Regions from separate parts of the Homo sapiens genome. Here region 1 is linked to region 2. The links come from fine-mapping of genetic effects on gene expression. Tissue or cell type: cerebellum. Region 2 holds a variant in brackets; the other region holds the start of a gene. All regions are shown on one strand. Distances are from middle to middle. Region 1 holds the start of CECR2 (CECR2 histone acetyl-lysine reader). Region 2 has its middle 49 kb from the start of CECR2.

What was found. PIP is the estimated chance that this variant, and not a neighbour inherited with it, causes the effect.
Region 1: CECR2 starts here. The variant in region 2 is fine-mapped to the expression of CECR2 in cerebellum (GTEx, PIP 0.97).

Annotation. Positions count from the first base shown.
Region 1 is chr22:17,364,539-17,373,921 of GRCh38, forward strand. CECR2 (CECR2 histone acetyl-lysine reader) reads left to right here and starts at 4,922. Exons shown (of 19, transcript NM_001290047.2): 1 at 4,922-5,371. The coding sequence starts at 5,246. RefSeq lists silencers at 5,180-5,249, 5,260-5,359.
Region 2 is chr22:17,315,710-17,325,092 of GRCh38, forward strand. No RefSeq gene overlaps it. Among named protein-coding and RNA genes, the nearest start is that of CECR2, 49 kb to the right of the region's middle. The variant G/A (reference allele first, on the strand shown) is at 5,092.

The DNA.
Region 1 (9,383 bases), 49 kb after region 2:
CAGTGGCTCACGCCTTGTAACCCTGCTCACTTTGGGATTACAAAGTGCTGTGATCCCAGCACTTTGGGAGGCCGAGGTGGGTGGATCACAAGGTTCGGAGTTCCAGACCAGCCTGGCCAATATGGTGAAACGCCATCTCTACTAAAAATACAAAAATTAGCTGGGAGTGGTGCCACGCACCTATAGGCTGAGACAGGAGAACCGCCTGAACGCAGAAGGCAGAGGTTGCAGTGAGCTGAGATCACACCACTGCACTCCAGCCTCGGCAACAGAGGGAGATTCCGTCTCAAAAAACAAAAAACAAAACAAACAAACAAAAAAACAAAAAATAAGAAGAAGAAGAAGAGAGAAGTAGCATGATTCCAAAGAGAGAAAACTGGCTGAACAGTTAGATTTGGATGCTTGGCTGGGCGCAGTGGCTCACGCCTATAATCCCAGCACTCTGGGAGGCTGAGGCAGGTGGATCACCTGAGGTCGGGAGTTTGAGACCAACCTGACCAACATGAAGAAACCCTATCTCTACTAAAAATACAAAACTAGCCAGGCGTGGTGGTGCGTGCCTGTAAACCTAGCTACTCGGGAGGCTGAGGCAGGAGAATTGCTTGAACCCAGGAGGCAGAGGTTGCAGTGAGCCAAGATCATGCCACTGCACTCCAGCCTGGGCAACAAGAGTGAAACTCTGTCTAAAAAAAAGGAAAAAGAAAAAGATTTGGATGCTTGTCCTGGTTAACGACGGTTATGAAGAAGCCACACTTTCCTTTGTTCATCTCTTCCAAGGTTCAGTAATAATAAAGCAGAGCACACATTTTTAAATTAATCCTTTGGAAATAACAGTGTATTTCCCAAAGAAACAATGTCATAAAAAAGGTGGTTAGGCCAGACTCAGTGGCTCACGCCTGTAATCCTAGTACTTTGGGAGGCCAAGGTGGGCGGATCACGAGGTCAGGAGATCGAGACCAGCCTGGCTAACACGGTGAAACCCCGTCTCTACTAAAAATACAAAAAAAATCAGCCAGGCGTGGTGGTGGGTGCCTGTACACCCAGCTACTCGGGAGGCTGAGGCAGGAAAATGGTGTGAACCGGGGAGGCGGAGCTTGCAGTGAGCCAAGATGGCACCACTGCACTCCAGCCTGGGTGACAGATCAAGACTGTCTCGGAAAAACAAACAAACAAACAAAAACAAACAAAAAAATGTGGTTAGCCTGGCCTGTAGTGCCAGCTATCTGGGAGGCTGAGGCAGGAGGATTGCTCAGTAAGGTGGCAGTGAGCTATGACTGCACCACTCCACTGCAGCCTGGACAACAAAGGGAGACCCCCTATGTAAAAAAAAAAAAAGGGTGGTTCATTTCCCAGATTATCCTCCAGGAACCTATATAAATCCCAACATAGCTAACATTACTTCATATTTTGCAATGGGAAACATAAATATTTTTGCAATATTAATGAATAAGCAAAACAGAAAAACCAAACGAATTATTGTGGGATTTTTAAATAGAAAACATTTGATTCAAAGGGGATTATGGAACTCAGGGTCAGAGAATATGAAAGAATTACTTCTTGCTACTTTTAATACTATCTGAAGTTAATGGCACTGGCTCACAAACAGAAAACAGCACGAATGAGAAGGGGAAAGAAAATATGAGCTGTGTTTTTTCTTTTTTCTTTTTTTGAGATTGAGTCTCACTCTGTCGCTAGGCTGGAGTACAGTGGCACGATCTCCGCTCACTGCAACCTCTGCCTCCCGGGTTCAACCAATCATCCTGCCTCAGCCTCCGAGTAGCTGGGAGTACAGGGGCGTGCCACCACGCCCAGCTAATTTTTTGTATTTTTAGCAGAGACGGAGTTTCACCATGTTGGCTAGGATGGTCTCGATCTCTTTACCTCGTGATCCGCCTGCCTGGGCCTCCCAAAGTGCTGAGATTACAGGCGTCACCTACCGCCCCGGCAAACTGTGTGTTTTTAAGGAAGATGATTCAACTAGTGTTTCGAGGGTGAAAGAATGGGCCAGGCTGGAGAAGTACAATAGCACTCCGAATCAAAGGGAGAAGGGAAGAAGGGTGAGTGGCCAGCCTATTGGTAGGGGGTCATTAATCTAGATTCTAGGAGGTTAGGCTGGAAGTTAGTCCAGAAAATAGATCCGAGGCAGTTAAGTCCAAGGGGAGGCGTGGCACAGATGTTCAAAGCAGGGTCAAAGATTCAGGGTATCAATCCTAACAGGGCCAGAGAAGGTCCAAATGGAAAAGCTCTGGTTGGAGCCCAAACTCGGGGAACTCAAGATTGAGATTTACTGTTGATTCCAAGACACTTGAGACCCCTCAGCTCCTGGGGCCAGGATCCGTTCCAGAGGGTAGTTGAGGCCAGAGTAGCAGGGTAGGTGGAGGAACTAGGGAAAAAACTGTAGAGACAAACAGAGTTAGAGAATGGTGGGAGGAAATGGGTCTAAAGTTGGTGTGCTGGGCCACAGAACAGAGAAGACCCTCAGAAGGAAAGGGCAGCAGAAGGGAGGAGGAGCCCTGAGAGACAGGGCGGATCTCCGAGCAGCACCAGGGGGCGCGTGCCGTTCCCGGACAGTCTTGTTGATTTCCGGGGCTTGGCAGTAGGCGGAGGAGGCAGGAAGACAATGGCTCAGCCTTTAAATTGGGGCTGGGGTGGTGTTTGTAAACGACATTAAACACACTACCGTACTAAAAGGTAGCCAAATCATCTCATCCCTCTGCTTGCTGGTGTCATTAATATCCTAGGCACTAATATTACTAGGCTGGCTAGTGGTGACAACTGAGAGGCGAGGGAAGAAGCTTAAACGATGACAAAAGATAAAGGCAGGGAAACGCAGTAACACTTTTTTTTTTTAATTTTTATTTTTTGAGACGGAGTCTCACTCTTACTGCTCAGGCTGGAGTGCAATGGCGAGATCTCGGCTCATTGCAATCTCTGCCTCCCGAGTTCAGGCGATTCTCCTGCCTCAGTCTCCCGAGTAGCTGGGACTACGGGCGCCTGCCACCACACCCATCTAATTTTATGTATTTTTAGTAGAGACGAGGTTTCACAATGTTGGCCAGGCTGGTCTCGAACTCCTGACCTAAGGTGAACCACCCGCCTCGGCCTCCCAAAGTGCTGGGATTACAGGCGTAAGCCACCGCGCCCGGCCAACTCACACAGAGGAAAAAGTGTGCAAAGTCAAACTGTGAGGAAATAAAAGACGGAGAAGCAAGTCCAGAAAGCACCTCGTTCAGGTTACGTGACAATTCCGGGGTGGCCTGTGTCCCTCTCCCATCTCCCTTGCTAATGCAATACTCACGGGGTAGCTGTGCTTCACCAACACACACAAACGTAGGCTTGGCTTTTTGGGAGCAGTCACATGTGAGCTCATTTTTGCCAAACATTAAATAAAAAGCATGGTAGAATTTGAGGATGCACTTTAAATCATCAAATAGTTCCAGGGAATGAAAGAGCAGAACTTTGGGTTGTTTTTCTGTGCCAGGAGAGAGTGGTGGGGGGCGGAGGAGACCCTTGTTAGAAGATGATGTATTTTGAGATTACTAGATTCACAGAAGATGCACGTGAATATACTCTAACCATTTAAAATTATGTTTCTGAATGCTGCCTTAAAAAATACAACAAGTTATTATCATAATAAAGTGAGGGAGAGTGGAGGGGTAATTATCCAGACAGCCCATTCCAAAATCTATCATATAAATTATCTCCAGATTGTACACTACTTAAAGGTAGAAGAGGATCTTTGAGTTTAACCCTTGTACACTTTGTGATTGTGCCTGTCACTCAATAAATAGTTGATTAATTTGGGGGACGCACCAGGAGCAGTGTTTCCTATCTGAAAGGTGGACCACCGAACTCAGAGGCGGCCCTCTGAGACCAGCAGGATGCAAGTGCGACGACCAATACAAATATCTGAGCATTCAATGGAGTTTTTCCAAACTTCTAGCCTGTTTCTGGGGTGATTTTTTTTCTTAGGATTTAGCAGTACTCCACCGCGCTACAGCAGTTAGCATTTCTAAAGCACACACTCCAACACCCTTCGGCCGTAGCACATTCAATCCCTCCGCCGGGGCGTGGGGGTCTCCTCCCCTCCGAGCACAGTCCCCGGCTTCCCGATCTCCTCTGCCCCATCCCCCCGCCTTCCAAGCACATTGTGCTCACTCTTCCAGGCAGCTCTTTCAGCGGCCGGGCAGTAGCAGGGTTCCGAGCCCGTCTTCTCCGGGGCGGTCACACGTGTCCATTCCCTGGGGTTGGGGATCGCTCTTCCCGCTTGGCTGCTGATTGGTGCCTCCCCCTACCCCACCCTTCCCGCCGCTCTCCAGCCTCCATCCTACTTCGTTCCAGCTCAATCAGCCCCACCGCCTTCTTCCCTCGGAGAAAAAAGCCACTTCAGAGCTCCTTGGGCGCCGTTCTCGGCTGGAATAAAAGCGTTAAGAAACAGGTGGAAAGCACTTCACTTCTCTAGGCTTCATATTTCTAGGGTGGACAGCCCGCTCCTGCTCCGGCTCTGCCCTCGGCATCAATAATAACTGAACTCCCACACGTGCACGTTTCTGTCTCTAGCCCGACCGAAAGGACCACCCCGCGGGCCCTTTAAAAGGACGCGACCACTCAGGCCAAGTGGGGGTGGGAGAGCTCCTGGCCGTCCTCCCTTGGGAAAGTGCTTCAACTCCCCAGTCCCAAAGTCCTGGAGGGCGGAGGGCGCCTCGTGAGAGTTCTCGGGGGTGCGGCCCGCGCCCCCTGGGTCCTGCGGATCTGGGCCCGGGGGCGCGCGCCCCGCCCCTCCCCCTCCCTGGCGGTGCAGCTGTCCGGGCGGGGGTGGGGCGGGGGCGGGGGTTGTTGTTGTGGCGCGGGCAGCCCCGCCCCCTCCTCGTGGGCGGCCCCTCCCCCAGGCCCCGCGTCCGGCCCCTCCGCCCCTAGCCCCATCTGTTTCTCCGGCGGGGACTCGATTATATTGTAGGGGACTGGGGGCGGCCGCCGCCGCAGCCGCGGGATGGGGCGAGCGCGCGGACCCCGCGGGCAGCCGCAGCCGCAGCCGCCTCAGTAGTTCGGGCCCCCGCGCCGCCGCCCCCCGCCCGGCGCCCGCCCTCGGCTCCTGCACTCGCCGAGCGGCGGCAGCAGCGGGAGGAGCGCCCCGCCGCCCCCGCCGAGGACCGCGCGGAGGCTGCGGCGCTGCCGCGGCGGGAGTCCCAGGTCGGCGGGCAGAGCGCGGGCAGCGAGGGGCCGCCGCCTGTGCCGCAGCGGGGAGATGTGCCCAGAGGAGGGCGGCGCGGCCGGGCTGGGCGAGCTCCGCTCCTGGTGGGAGGTCCCGGCCATCGCGCACTTCTGCTCGCTCTTTCGCACCGCGTTCCGCCTGCCCGACTTCGAGATCGAGGTGAGTGGCCGCGCGGGCGGGAGGCGGCGCGCTGCGCCCCCTGCTCCCCCTGCCCCGCGCGGGGTGTCCCGGGCCGTCGCGCAGAGGGGCCGGGGCCCGAGGGACTTCGGCCGGGAGTCGGGGGCCAGGAGGAGGGCGCAAAAGGGCAGGAGGGCGGGCGGGGGCCGCCGGGCTGTGCCCGGGTGCCGAGGGGCGTCGGGCCGGGGACGCCGGATCCTGGGGTGGAGGAGCAGGCACCGCGAGGGCGGGGCGGGCCCGTGCTTTTGTGGGAGAGGGAGCGGGAGCGGGACCCGGCGACCCTCCCGGGACTTCTCCGGTGGGCTGGGGCTGGGTGTGGGCGCGAGGGCTGCGCGCGCTCGCCGCCCGGTGCCATTGAGGCGCGAGCCAGCTGCTCCGGCGGGGCCGGGCGCGGGGGGGGGGCCCGCGCGGGATTAACTCGGACCGGGGCGGGAGTCGGCCGCGGCCGGCGGGGAGGGCTAGCCCCGCTCTGGCGGGCGGGCGCGTGGCAGGGGCTCCCGGAGGCCCCAAGCTCCCGGGAGGCGCTCCGGCCAACTTCGGGCCGGTGGGGACCGGGCCTGGGCGCGGGGCTCTGGAGGTGTGGAAGGAAAGTTTGGGACTCCGTTATTCTTCCACAGCGTCCTTCCTCCCGTAATATCCAGCCTCTTTATCGCGGGGCTCGGGAGCCCTTGGAGTTGATCTCGCCACCATTATCCCCCCGGGCGAGCGCGGAGGACGGGCTGGCCATTCTGGCCAGGCCGGAGGTGTTTTCCAGCCCGGGGCTTTGTGATAACTGGGCCGAAACCCGAGGGTCCTGGAGCGCGGCGGGTGGCGGGAGCTTGCGGAGCGCGGCGCACTCGGCGGCCAGGCATCGGCCAGCCCAGCGGCAGCCCCCTTTCTCCTATTTTTATTTTTATTTTTGGAAGGAGCTGAGAATTAGTCGATTGGTTGGCAGGTTGAATTGCCTTCTCTTCTATGGCAATATGTGTCGTGACTTTTCACCTTTTGCCTTTGGACAAAGGTGAATGGCAACTGCGTTGGTCAGTTTTTGTTTTCTGTTCTGCGGATGGGTTCGCCGACGCAGTAATCAAAATTAGAGCCACTCTTTTGGAAGAGCAAATCGTTGTTGTTGCCTCCCCAGCCCCACGGATCTTACTTTGTGCCATTTTCGGGTTGATTTTAACTCGTTTATTTCAGAGCTCTTTGCCTCACCTTTATTTTTAGATTTAGTCGTGTTTGCTGAAATATCAGTTGCTTCTTCTGTGAATGAAGTGTGGGAACTTGCTCTCGTCGCAGTTAATGAAATCAGGAAAATAAAAAGATCAAAAGGGTTGGGGATGGGAGAATGAAGAGGAATGTAGACAGATAGTCTAGGGCCACTCACTGGCTTTTGGCGATTCTTAGTTCCTTAAGCTGATTAAAACAATGTGAGGAAATGTGGGCTTCTCCACTTTTTAGGAAGAGGTAATAACGGGCATTTTACGTGGCGCCACAGCGTTTGTTTTCAAAGTTTGAACGTGAATGTAGCAAGCATAATTTTATTAATGAAAATATTCTTTAGACAACTGTTAATATTGACGAAAGAAGAGAAACAGAGACACGGAAGCTAAAGAGTTGGGAATCCTAAAGGTCAAAGGATGTTTCTCAGTTACTCTGATGTCCTGTGTTTTCTTTCAGTTGGTACAAAATCGTGAGTAGTTTAATTATATCCTGCAGTCAAAATGGTGGCTGTGGTGGGAGGTGCCGCCTGTGACAGGGCCATCTTGGGTGCTGGTAAACTTGCACCTAGTCCCTTTTCTTCCTTGCGAGATAAAGTTGAGGTGGTGCTGGGATTATGAGTTCAGAGTTTAAAGACCCATCCTAAAAATATTGTTGGAAAAACTTTATGTCTCAAAATCCATGTATTCCCATTTTGTTGATGAAAAGCTAGAGGTAACTCATTTTGCCTTAAGTACTCGCAGCATATTTAGAGTAACCTGTAAATAACTTGTCTTCTGTTATAAGCAATAAACTTGTGGTTTCTGAGAATTAGCTGGTTTAATTCCTAAAGGAAATGTAAACTGATTAAAGAGGTCAAATTTATATGTATAACATGAAAAATCACTGTAGTTTACATGGTGAATAATCAAGGCTATTTGATATGACTGTCCTCTCTTTTGACTCCAGTGTTTCTTGGAAATGACACTTTTTTGGGGCTAAAATACATGCTGTTTGAAATACATGCAACAGAAATGAATATTTGGCTTCAAACATGCAGGTTTTAAGAACTATCCACACTCGTTTTTATTTGGAGATGTTCAGTCAGTGGATAACAAAGTGACTTTTCTCACCTGCAGTTTTTGTCTAATCCATCTCAGGTATGTTTTGATATGGCTAATGGAAATTTTAACTTACGCTTTTTAGTAGTTATCAAAAATTAGAATTTTATTGGGAATGATTATATGTGAGATTTAAAAATTAAGATTTAAGAATGTATTTTCTCGACTCGGTGGCTCACCCCTGTAATCCCAGCACTTTGGGAGGCCGAGGTGGGTCGATCACCTGAAGTCAGGAGTTCGAGACGAGACTGGCTAACATGATGAAACCCCGTTTCTACTAAAAATATAAAAAGTTAGCCAGGCATGGTGGCGCGCTCCTGTAATCCCAGTTACATCCGTAGGCTGAGGCAGGATGATCGCTTGAACCCGGTAGGCGGAGGTGGCAGCGAGCCGAGATCGTGCCATTGCACTGCAGCCTGGGCGACAGGGCGAGACTCTGTCTCAAAATAAATATATTAATTAATTAAAAGATAAAAAATTCAAATGCCGAGCCGTACCTGTTAGGCCATGTGGAAGGGCCCTACAGTCTTAATTTTCTGCAACTTTAAAAGGTAAAAATGATAAATAATAGCAAGTAGTAGAAGTTGGGTATCAGTTATTTCAGGAAACCAGTTTTCAGCTGTGGGAAAGATCTCACCAGGCTGAACTCATGGATTTATAGAAAATTGAGGAAGCAGAGTCTTCAAGGACTCGGCTTCCATTTATCTAAAGTGAAGCAATCTCTAAGACAGGTGAAGGGCTGGCAGGATTCATGCCCCACTTCTCCAAGAGATTAAGACCTTCCACTTAGAAAACTGTCCCCAAAACGTGGATATTTTTATTTTTGTGTGTATTAAATAAATTTTTTGTTTTTTCTGAGACGGAGTCTCACTCTGTTGCCCAGGCTGGAGTACAGTGGCGCGACCTCGGCTCACTGCAACCTCCACTTCCCAGGTTCAGGTGATTCTCCCGCCTCAGCCTCCGGAGTAGCTGGGACTACAGGCATGTACCAGCACACCCGGCTAATTTTTGTATTATAAAAAAACTTTTTACTCTATTAATCAACCTTGAATATACAGGATTGCTTTAGAAGAGTCAACGAATACTTGGTTCTTAGTTTTAGATAAGAAACCTGCCAAGTATATAATAGTAATGCCTTATCTCAGTTCAAAATTCCTAGTTGTAAAAATACTAAAAAAAAATTATATAAACGTGAAAATTATCATAAAATACAGGTAAAAATTAAAACCACCCATGGTCACCAATCAGGGATAAAAGTTAACTGTTAACATTGTATCCTTCCACTCAGGGATAAAAGTGATTCACTGTTAACATACTTAGAAATTCCTAAATATGCCCGCAGTGTAATTGTTCTGTAGGTTAGATGTTTTTGCTTTTCAGATGAGATTGAGGTATAGCTGGAAAACAGATGAATGACACTGAATTCAGTAGTTGATATAAACAGATGAATGACACTGAATTCAGTAGTTGATATAAACAGATGAATGACACTGAATTCAGTAGTTGATATCATTAAGCCCCTACTTTGTGCTTAACATGGAACTTGGAAATTTACCAAAGAAGCTCTTACCTGGCCTCCTTTGCCTCAGAAGATTATCTGTTAATATTTCAGAACCAGCAATTTTATACCACTTCAGTTAAATCAAGTATTTTATAATTGTTTAACATTCTAGTGGCTTAGGTTGGCTAAGTTTTGT
Region 2 (9,383 bases):
GTTCATTTCAGTGTCTCAAAGAATCTGCTGCTGCGTCCTCGAGTAACTTCCCAGTAAACACTGGGGGAATGTGGAGAGGAATGGCTACTTGAAGGTATAATTGATAAAGAAGAAAGGAGCAACTTACTGACCATTACATCAGACTAGCCAAGACACTTGTTGCACAGAGACTTTCTTAGAGCGAACTTTATTACAACCAAATAAATTCAGTATTTTCACATGGGACATGAATGTGCATGGGTTTGGAAAAGGTTTTATTATATTTTAATATGTACTCTTCTTTGTAGTAATAATTATTGTAATGAAATTCTATCTGCTGACTTAACTATTAGTTAGAATTTTGTATACTTTATTATATGTAAATTCCATTACAATGTTCTGCCTTTCTTATAAAAAAATTACTTCAAATAGGCAATACATTTGTAAGATTTAAAAATCAGATTGTATTGGCTGTGTGCAGTGGCCCACTCCTGTAATTCTAGCACTTTAGGAAGCAGAGGTGGGAGGATTGCTTGAGCCCAGAAGTTCAAGACCAGCCTGGACAACATAGTGAGACACTGTCTGAATAAAATTTAAAAATTTAAAAAAAAAGAAGGTATACACAGATGCATGGTGAAAAGTCTTCCTCCCACCCTTTGTCCTTTTGTTGCCCAGATGGCATCTGGAGCCTCAGCACACTTGCACACACAAAACTGCTATTATTAGTACCTTAGATATCCCCCCTGAGTTTCTTCATGCATATACAAACAAGTTGTATTAGGCCATTCTCACACTGCTGTACAGAAATACCTGAGACTGGGTAATTCATAAAGAAAGAGGTTTGACTGGGCGCAGTGGCTCACCCTTCTAAACCCAGCACTTTGGGAAGCCGGGGTGGGTGGATCATTTGAGGTCAGGAGTTCGAGACCAGCCTGGCCAACATGGTGAAACCTCATCTTTACTAAAAATACAAAAATTAGCTGGGCGTGGTGGCTCACGCCTGTAATCCCAGCTACTCGGGAGGCTGAGGCAGGAAAATCGCTTGAGCCTGGGAGATGGAGGTCGCGGTGAGCTGAGATCGCGCCATTGCATTCCAGCCTGGGTGACAGAGTGAGACCCTGTCTCCAAAACTTAAAAAAAAAAAAAAAAAGGTTTAATTGCCTCACGGTTCGGCAGGCTGTGAAGCATGGCAGCCTCCTCTTCTGGGGAGGCCTCAAGGAGCTTTTACTCATGGCGGAAGGCTAAGCGGGGGCAGGCATCTTACATGGCAGGAGCAGGAGCAAGAGAGATGGGGAAGATGCTACACATGTTTAGACAACCAGATCTCAGCTCTCACGAGAACTCACTCACTATCAGGAGAACAGCACCAAGGGGAAATCTGTCCCCACAGACCCAATCACCTCTCACAGGCCCCACCTCCAACATTGGGGATTACAATTCCACATGAGATTTGGGCAGGGACGCAGATCCAAATCATATTAAGTATAAATATACCACCAGGTGCAGTGGCTCACACCTGTAATCTCAGCACTTTGGAAGGCCAAGGCAGGCAGACTGTCTGTGCTCAGGAGTTCGAGACCAGCCTGGGCAACATGGCAAAACCCCTCTCTACTAAAAATACAAAAACTAGCCGGGCATGGTGGCGGGCACCTGTAGTCCCAGATACTTGGGAGGCTGAGGCAGGAGACTCACTTGAACCTGGGAGTCAGAGGTTGCAGTGAGCCCTGTGATTGCACCACTGCACTCCAGCCTGGGCAACAGAGGGAGGCTCTATCTCAAAAAAAAAGTATAAATATATATTCTTATCTTGTCCCCTCTCATACAAATGGTAGCATACTCTTTACAACATTTTGCATTTTGCTTTTAAAATTTTCTTGGGGCCAGATGTGATGGCTCATGCCTGTAATCCCAGCACTTTGGGAGGCTGAGGCAGGCGGATCACCTGAGGTCAGGAGTTCGAGACCAGCCTAGCCAACATGGTGAAACCCCGTCTCTATTAAAAATTAGCTGGGCATGGCGGCACATGCCTGTAATCCCAGCTACTCAGGAGGCTGAGGCAGGAGAATTGCTTGAACTCCGGAGGCGAAGGTTGCGGTAAGCCGAGATTGCACCATTGCACTCCAGCCTGGGCGACAAGAGCAAAACTCTGTCTCAAAAAAAAAAATTTTTTTTTTCTTGGAGGTTTCCTTATCAGAAATAGAGGGTTTCTCATTCCATTTTATGGTTGCATAGCATTCTACTGTATGAAAGACCATGATTTGTTTAAAGTCCCCCTCTGGGCAGAGGTTGCAGTGAGCTGAGATCACGCCACTGCACTCCAGCCTGGGTGACAGAGCAAGCCTCTGTCTCAAAAAAGAAAAAAAGTCTCCTTCTGATGGACTAGTAGGCTTCCAGATTTTTGTTATTCAAACAACACTTTAATAAATAACTTGGGGCCGGGCACGGTGCCTCATGTCTGTAATCCCAGCACTTCGGGAGGCCAAGCTGGGTAGATCACGAGGTCAGGAGTTCGAGCCCACCCTGGCTAACACGGTGAAACTCCGTCTCTACTAAAAATACAAAAAATTAGCCAGGCACGGTGGCGAGCGCCTGTAGTCCCAGCTACTCGGGAGGCTGAGGCAGGAGAATGGCGTGAACCCGGGAGGCAGAGCTTGTAGTGAGCCAAGATGGCGCCACTGCACTCCAGACTGGGCGACAGAGCGAGACTCCGTCTCAAGATAAAATAAAATAGTAAAATAAATAACTTGGAACATTTATCATTTTGCCTGTGTATGAGTCTAGCTGTAGAATAAACTCCTAGAAGAAGAATTGGTAGATCAAAGGGTGTACTCATTAGTGATTTTTTTAGATATCACTAAACAGCCTTCCCTAGAGGTGGTACCATTGAACTGTATTTCTTCTCTCTTTCTCTCATGACATACAATTTATTGAATGTCTAGTGCCTGTTAGGCGCCATGAGAAGTACTGGGGATGTGAATCAAATAAGATTTGGTTTCTGTCTCATTGGAACTCACAGTCTGGTGCAGTGGTTTTCAACTGGGATGATTTTACTCTCCAGGGACATTTGGCAATGTCTACAGACATGTTTTGGAGGGAGGTTGCTAATGGCATACTGGCACGTAGTAGGTAGAAGCCAGGGATCCTGCTAAACATCCTGCAATGCACAGGGAAGTCCTCACTACAAGGAAGTTTAAGCCCAAAATGTCAATAGTGCTGGGTTGACAAGCCCTGGGCTCATGGGAGAGAGAGACGGACACTCAAATGTGCTACGGAAAAGGTGTGTTCTTGAAACTTAGAGGAGTGGCTTCCAAAGGGCTTTTTCAGAAGGTGCAAGTGGATTCTGGAGGGAGGAGGGGGTGCGAGGAGAAAGGGAACAGTAAGTGCAGTGGTGTGGAGGTGTGAACAGCTTGACCCAGGAGGAAGGACAAGTGGTTTTGAATGGCTGGACTACTAAAAGCTATGTGAGTGTGGAGCAAGGCCAGACAGACAGGCATGGATGGTGCTGACTGACAAGGGTCCTAGCTGCTAAGCTAATGAGGGGAGTCAATGAAGGGTTTTAAGCATGGGAGTGAGTTACTTAGATGTGCATTTTAAAGAAACTCACATTGGGTGTGGGAAGGAGGGCAGCCTGGATGGGATCAGATTGGCCACAGGCAGAAGAATTAAGAGGCTGCAGCAATAATCCAGGTTGGATGTGACAAGAGCCATCACCAAGTGAGAGTGGGAACAGAGGGGAGAGGACAGGCTCAGGAGATATAAAAGAAGGTAGATTCAGAAGGTCATGGAGCTAGGAAGGAGATCTATAGGATAATTCCTAGGTTTTGATATGTAAGCAATAGGGTGGACAGAGAGGTCGTTCTGTAAAATAGAGAACACAGGAGAGCAGATGGGGGCAGGGGAGAAATGCAAACAGACATGTTGTGTCTGAGCGCCGTGGGGCCCGTCAGTGAACAGGGGAATGTTCAGACCCCTGGTCAGCAGAAAGCCCAGGGCCAGCATGCACATTCAAGAGGCATCAGCCAGGAGCTGTCCTTTGAGGCCCTGGGTGTGGATAAATAAGCTCATCCAGGCGGAATGAAGAAAGAGGAGTGGGTGGAGAGCCCAGCCCTGAGGAGCAGCTGTTGATTGGCCTCTGTGGAAATTGCAGGAGGAGCTGCTCAGGTCTTTTATGAATTTCTGTTGTCATTTCTTCTAGCTTTGCCAACTGTGGGGCTCTCTATTTTCTTCTGTGCAAACGTCCTAATTCTTGGCAATTTAAAGGGCTATGCCAATCTAACTTATTGTTACTAATACTGTTATTGTTATTATCCCAACTGTTCATCTGGTACCCAAAAGCCTTCCTCAGCTTACAATTTGCCACCTCCTACAATCATCCTTGGTTTTCTGCTTGCTTCATAAGGAACTCTGTGCAAACACCTACCATGGAAATGAAAAGCTCCATTGTAATGGTCTGTTGTTTGATTCCCCAGCTATACTAAAAGCTCCTTAGAGCAAGAATTACAGTTTATTTGTCTTAGAGTCTCCAGCACCTGTAACAGTGCTTAGCACTTAGGTATTTGAAAAATGGCTGTTAATGAATGATTTTGGTTGAGTTCTAAGAGGTTTATTGACAGGCCCACCATCGATCCCAGGGCAGGCTGGTTTATACCTGTTGTCCTGGCAGAGTTATAAACAATATTAATAATAACCCCTTTCAGCTGGGCGTGGTGGCTCATGCCTGCACTTTGGGAGGCTGAGGTGGATGGATCACTTGAGGTCAGGAGTTCAAGACCAACCTGGTCAACATGGTGAAACTTCATCTCTACTAAAAATACAAAAATTAGCCGGGCATGGTGGCACATGCCTGTAATCCCAGCTACCCAGGAGGCTGAGACAGGAGAGTCACTTGAATCCAGGAGGCGGAGGTTGCAGTGAGCCACTGAACTCCAGCTGGGTGACAGAGCAAGACTCTCTCTCAAAATAATAATAATAACAACGTCTTTCAATCACAAATCTGCCCTAGTTTAACGGATAAAGTATATGGTGACCCTATTTGCAGAACACTAAACTGTCATAGCCGGTCCTAACATTAGGTAGGTTTCTCTGTTTACAAAACATTCCTGCCAGAGAAAC[G/A]GGTGGACACAGCAGGGTGGGTTACCAGCTCAAGTCAACATTAAAAAAGGGAGCCATTCTTCTGAGATAAGATAACAGAGTTATGGGGAAAAGGGAATTCAGGCAGATCCTCACATTAATAAAACTTGTTTTAAAACCAGCAAGCTATCAAATCAGTATAAAAAATAATTGGCACAAATAGAGTGGTTGAGTATTAAGAACCAAGAATCATGGGATTTTTTTTTTTTTTTTGTGAGGTCTTGGATAGGAGAATCAAGAAATTTTTAATTTTTTTTTTTTTTTTTTTTTTTGAGATGGAGTTTCACTCTTGTTTCCCAGGCTGGAGTGCAATGGCACAATCTCGGCTCACTGCAACCTCTACCTCCTGGGTTCAAGCAATTCTCCTGCCTCGGCCTACTGAGTAGCTGGGATTACAGGCACCCACCACAACACCTGGCTAATTTCTGTATTTTTAGTAGAGATGGGGTTTCTCCATGTTGGCCAGGCTGGTCTCGAACTCCTGATCTCAGAGGATCTGCCCGCCTCGGCCTCCCAAAGTGCTGGAAGCCACCACGCCCAGCCGAGAGTCACAGAATTTTATAGGTATAATAATTCATTGTGTGAGTGGGGAAAGTGAGGCATAGAGAAGTTATGTTGAGCTGGCCAATATATAACTTGTGTAAAAATTGGGCCTAGACATAAGAGTAATCAGATCAATGAAAGATAACAGAGAACTAAGAAAGAGACCCACACTGCAATCATTTGATTTTCAACAAACGTAACAAGAAATCTAGTGGGGAAAGGAAAGTTTTTTCAACCAATGGTGCTGGAACAACTAAATACCCATATCGGGGAAAAGACCAGGCATGGAGATGCCTGTAATCCCAGCACTTTAGGAGTCTGAGGCAAGAAGATCACTTGAACCTAGGAGTTCGAGACCAGTCTGGGCAACATAGTGAGACCCTGTCTCTACAAAAATAAAAATAAAAATTAGTTAAGTGTGGTGACGTGTGCCTGTGGTCCCAGATACTCCAGAGGCTGAGGCAGGAGGATCACCTGAGCTCAGGGAGGTCGAAGCTGAAGTGAGCTGTGATTGTGTCACTGCACTTCAATGTAGGCAACAGAATAAGACCTTGTCTCAAAAAAAAAAAAAAAATCAAACTAACATATGGGGAAAAAGTGAACTTTGACCACTTACCCCACACCATTCACAAAGATTAATTTGAGATGGATTAGAGACCTAAAACTATTCAGTTTTAGTACTATGACAGTAAAACATCTGGAGAAAACCATAAGAAAATGTCTTTGTGATTTAAGGGTACGCAAATATATCTTACAGAAGACAGGGAAAGCAATAATTACCAAAAAAAAAAAAAAAAACTTGTCAATTTAGACTTCCACAAAATAAAAAACTTCCACTCATCAAAAGATACTGTTAAGAAAAGAATAAGTGGCCTGGGCGAGGTGGCTCACGCCTGTAACCCCAGCACTTTGGGAGGCCAAAGCAGGTGGATTACCTGAGGTCAGGAGTTTGAGACCAGCCTGACCAACATCGTGAAACCCCATCTCTACCGAAAATACAAAAATTAGCCGGACGTGGTGGTGGGCACCTGTAAATCCCAGCTACTTGGAAGACTGAGGGAGAAGAATTGCTAGAACCCAGCAGGCGGAGGTTTCAGTGAGCCAAGATCGCACCACTGCACTCCAGCCTGAGGGACAGAGTGAGACTCCATCTCAAAAAAAAAAAAAAAAAAAAGAAAAAGAAAAGAAAAAATAAGCAAGCCACAGACTGAAAAAAATTTGCAAAACATATGTCTAATAGATGCCTATTAGTTAGAAAGAGAAAAATAGGAACTTCACAGTGGAGAAATCTGGCAGATTCCACTTTTAACCGTGTGACCTAAATTAACATCACCGGTAATGAGACCAATGGACATCACATACATCATGACAGGCTGCACTGAGAAAGACCCAATCTCCCTTCTGTGGTATTCCGGCAAAAAAAAAAAAAAAAAAAAAAAAAAAAATGCATATCATCAATCTAATCCTGCAGAAAGATCAGACAAACACAAAACGAGGGAAATTCTGCAAAACAGCTGGCCTATTCCCTTCAAAAATATCAAGGTTGTAAAGGACAAAGAAATATGAAAAACTGTTCCAGATTACAGGAGACTAAAGAGACATAATAACTGAATGCAGCATGTGATCCCAGATAGTACCACAGAACACCGATGAGACAGCTGGTGAAATATGAAGAAGGTCAAAGTTTAGATAAATACTATTATATTAATGTTAGTTTCCTGATGTGCATAATTGTATCGCTGTTATGAAGAGAATGTACTTTTTAATTATTTAAAAAATTGTTATTTTATTTCATTTTTTTAGAGACAGGGTCTTGCTATATTGCCCAGGCTGGACTCCTCTACTGAAGCCATCCTCCTGCCTCAGCCCCCTGAGTAGCTGGGGCTACAGATGTACACCACTATGCCCAGCTAGGATACATATTTTAAAAAGGAAATACACTCTGAAGAATTTAGAGGTAAAAGGGCATCCTGTCTGCAATTTACTCTCAAACATATTAAAAAATATGTTTGTATATATGTGCACATATATAAGTATGTACATATTTATAGACAGAATAAATGATAAAGCAAATAGGATAAAACATTAACATTTGGGGAATATGGGTAAAGGGACTATGGGAATTCCTACTACCATTTTGCAATATTTTGGAAGTCTAAAATTACTTCAAAATAAAAAATGTGTAGAGATAGATATCTGACAAAGGACTTGTATTCAGAATATATAAAGAATGCCATACCTATAATTCTATAAAAACAAACAACCCAATTAAAACCTGGATCCTAGCACTTTGGAAGGCTGAGGTGGGAGGATTGCTTGTGCACAGGACTTCAAGACTAGCCTGGGCAACATAGCGAGACCCCTGCCTCTACAAAATATTAAAAAAGTAGTCAGGTGTGGTGGCATGCACCTGTGATCCTGGCTCCTTGGGAGGCTGAGACAGGAGGATCGCTTAAGCCCAGGAGTTCGAGGCTACAGTGAGCTATAATCGTGCCACTGCACTCCAGCCTGGGTGACAGAGCGAGACCCTGTCTCTAAATTAATTAATTAATTTAATTTAATTAAAACAGCTTCTTAAAAAACTGGACAAAATATTTGAAGGGACACTTCACAAAGAAACATACATGAAAGGGAAATAAATACATGAAAAGATGCTAAAAATTAGAAACCATTATTGAAATGCCAATTAAAACCACAATGCAATACCATCAAATGAAAAAGATTGACAGCACTAAATATTAGCAAAGATATGGAGCAACTGGAACTTTCATATATTGTTGGTGGGAGTGTTAACTGCAAAGAAGTTTTTTTTCTTTTTTTTTTTGGCTTTTTTTGAGACAAGATCTGGCTCTCTCATCCAGGTTGGAGTGCAGTGGTGCAGTCTCGGCTCACTGCAACCTCCACCTCTTGGGTTCAAGTGACCTCTCACTTCAGCCTCCCAAGCAGCGGGGACTACAGGTGCGCACCACCATGTCTGGCTAATTTTTGTATTTTTGTAGAGATGGAGTTTTGCCATGTTGCCCAGTCTGGTCTTGAACTCCTGGCCTCATGTGATCTGCCCACTTCAGCCTCCCAAAATGCTAGGATTACAGGTGTGAGCCACTGTGCCCAGCCTGCCAACACAATATTGAAGGAGAAGGAGAAAGTCAGAGGATTGACACTACCCAATTTAGAGACTCACTATAAGGCAGTGTGATATCGCTAAAAGAACAGAAAAACAAGTGTGGTATTGCTAAGAGAACAGAAAAACAGATAGCTGGAACAGAATAGACAGCCCAGACAGACAAGCATAGATACAGTTAATGGATCTTTTTCAAAGGAGCAAAGGCAATACAATGGAGAGAGTTCTTTTCTTTTCTTTTCTTTTTTTTTTTTTTTTGAGACAGAGTCTCACTCTGTCATCCAGGCTGCAGTCTAGTGGCACAGTCACGACTCACTGCAGCCTCAATCTCCTGGGCTCAAGCGATTCTCTCACCTTAGTCTCCCAAGTAGCTGGGACCAGAGGTGCACACCACCAAGCCTGGGTAATTTTTAAAATTTTTTGTAGAGATGGGGTCTCACAAATTGCCCAGGCTGGCCTTGAACCCAGGATGGCTCAAGTGATCCTCCTGCCACATCCTCCCAAAGTTTTGGGATTACAGGCATGAGCCACTGTGCCCGGCAGTGTTTTCAATAAATGGTTCTGGAACAACTGGACATCCACATGCAAAAAAAATGAATCTAGACACAGA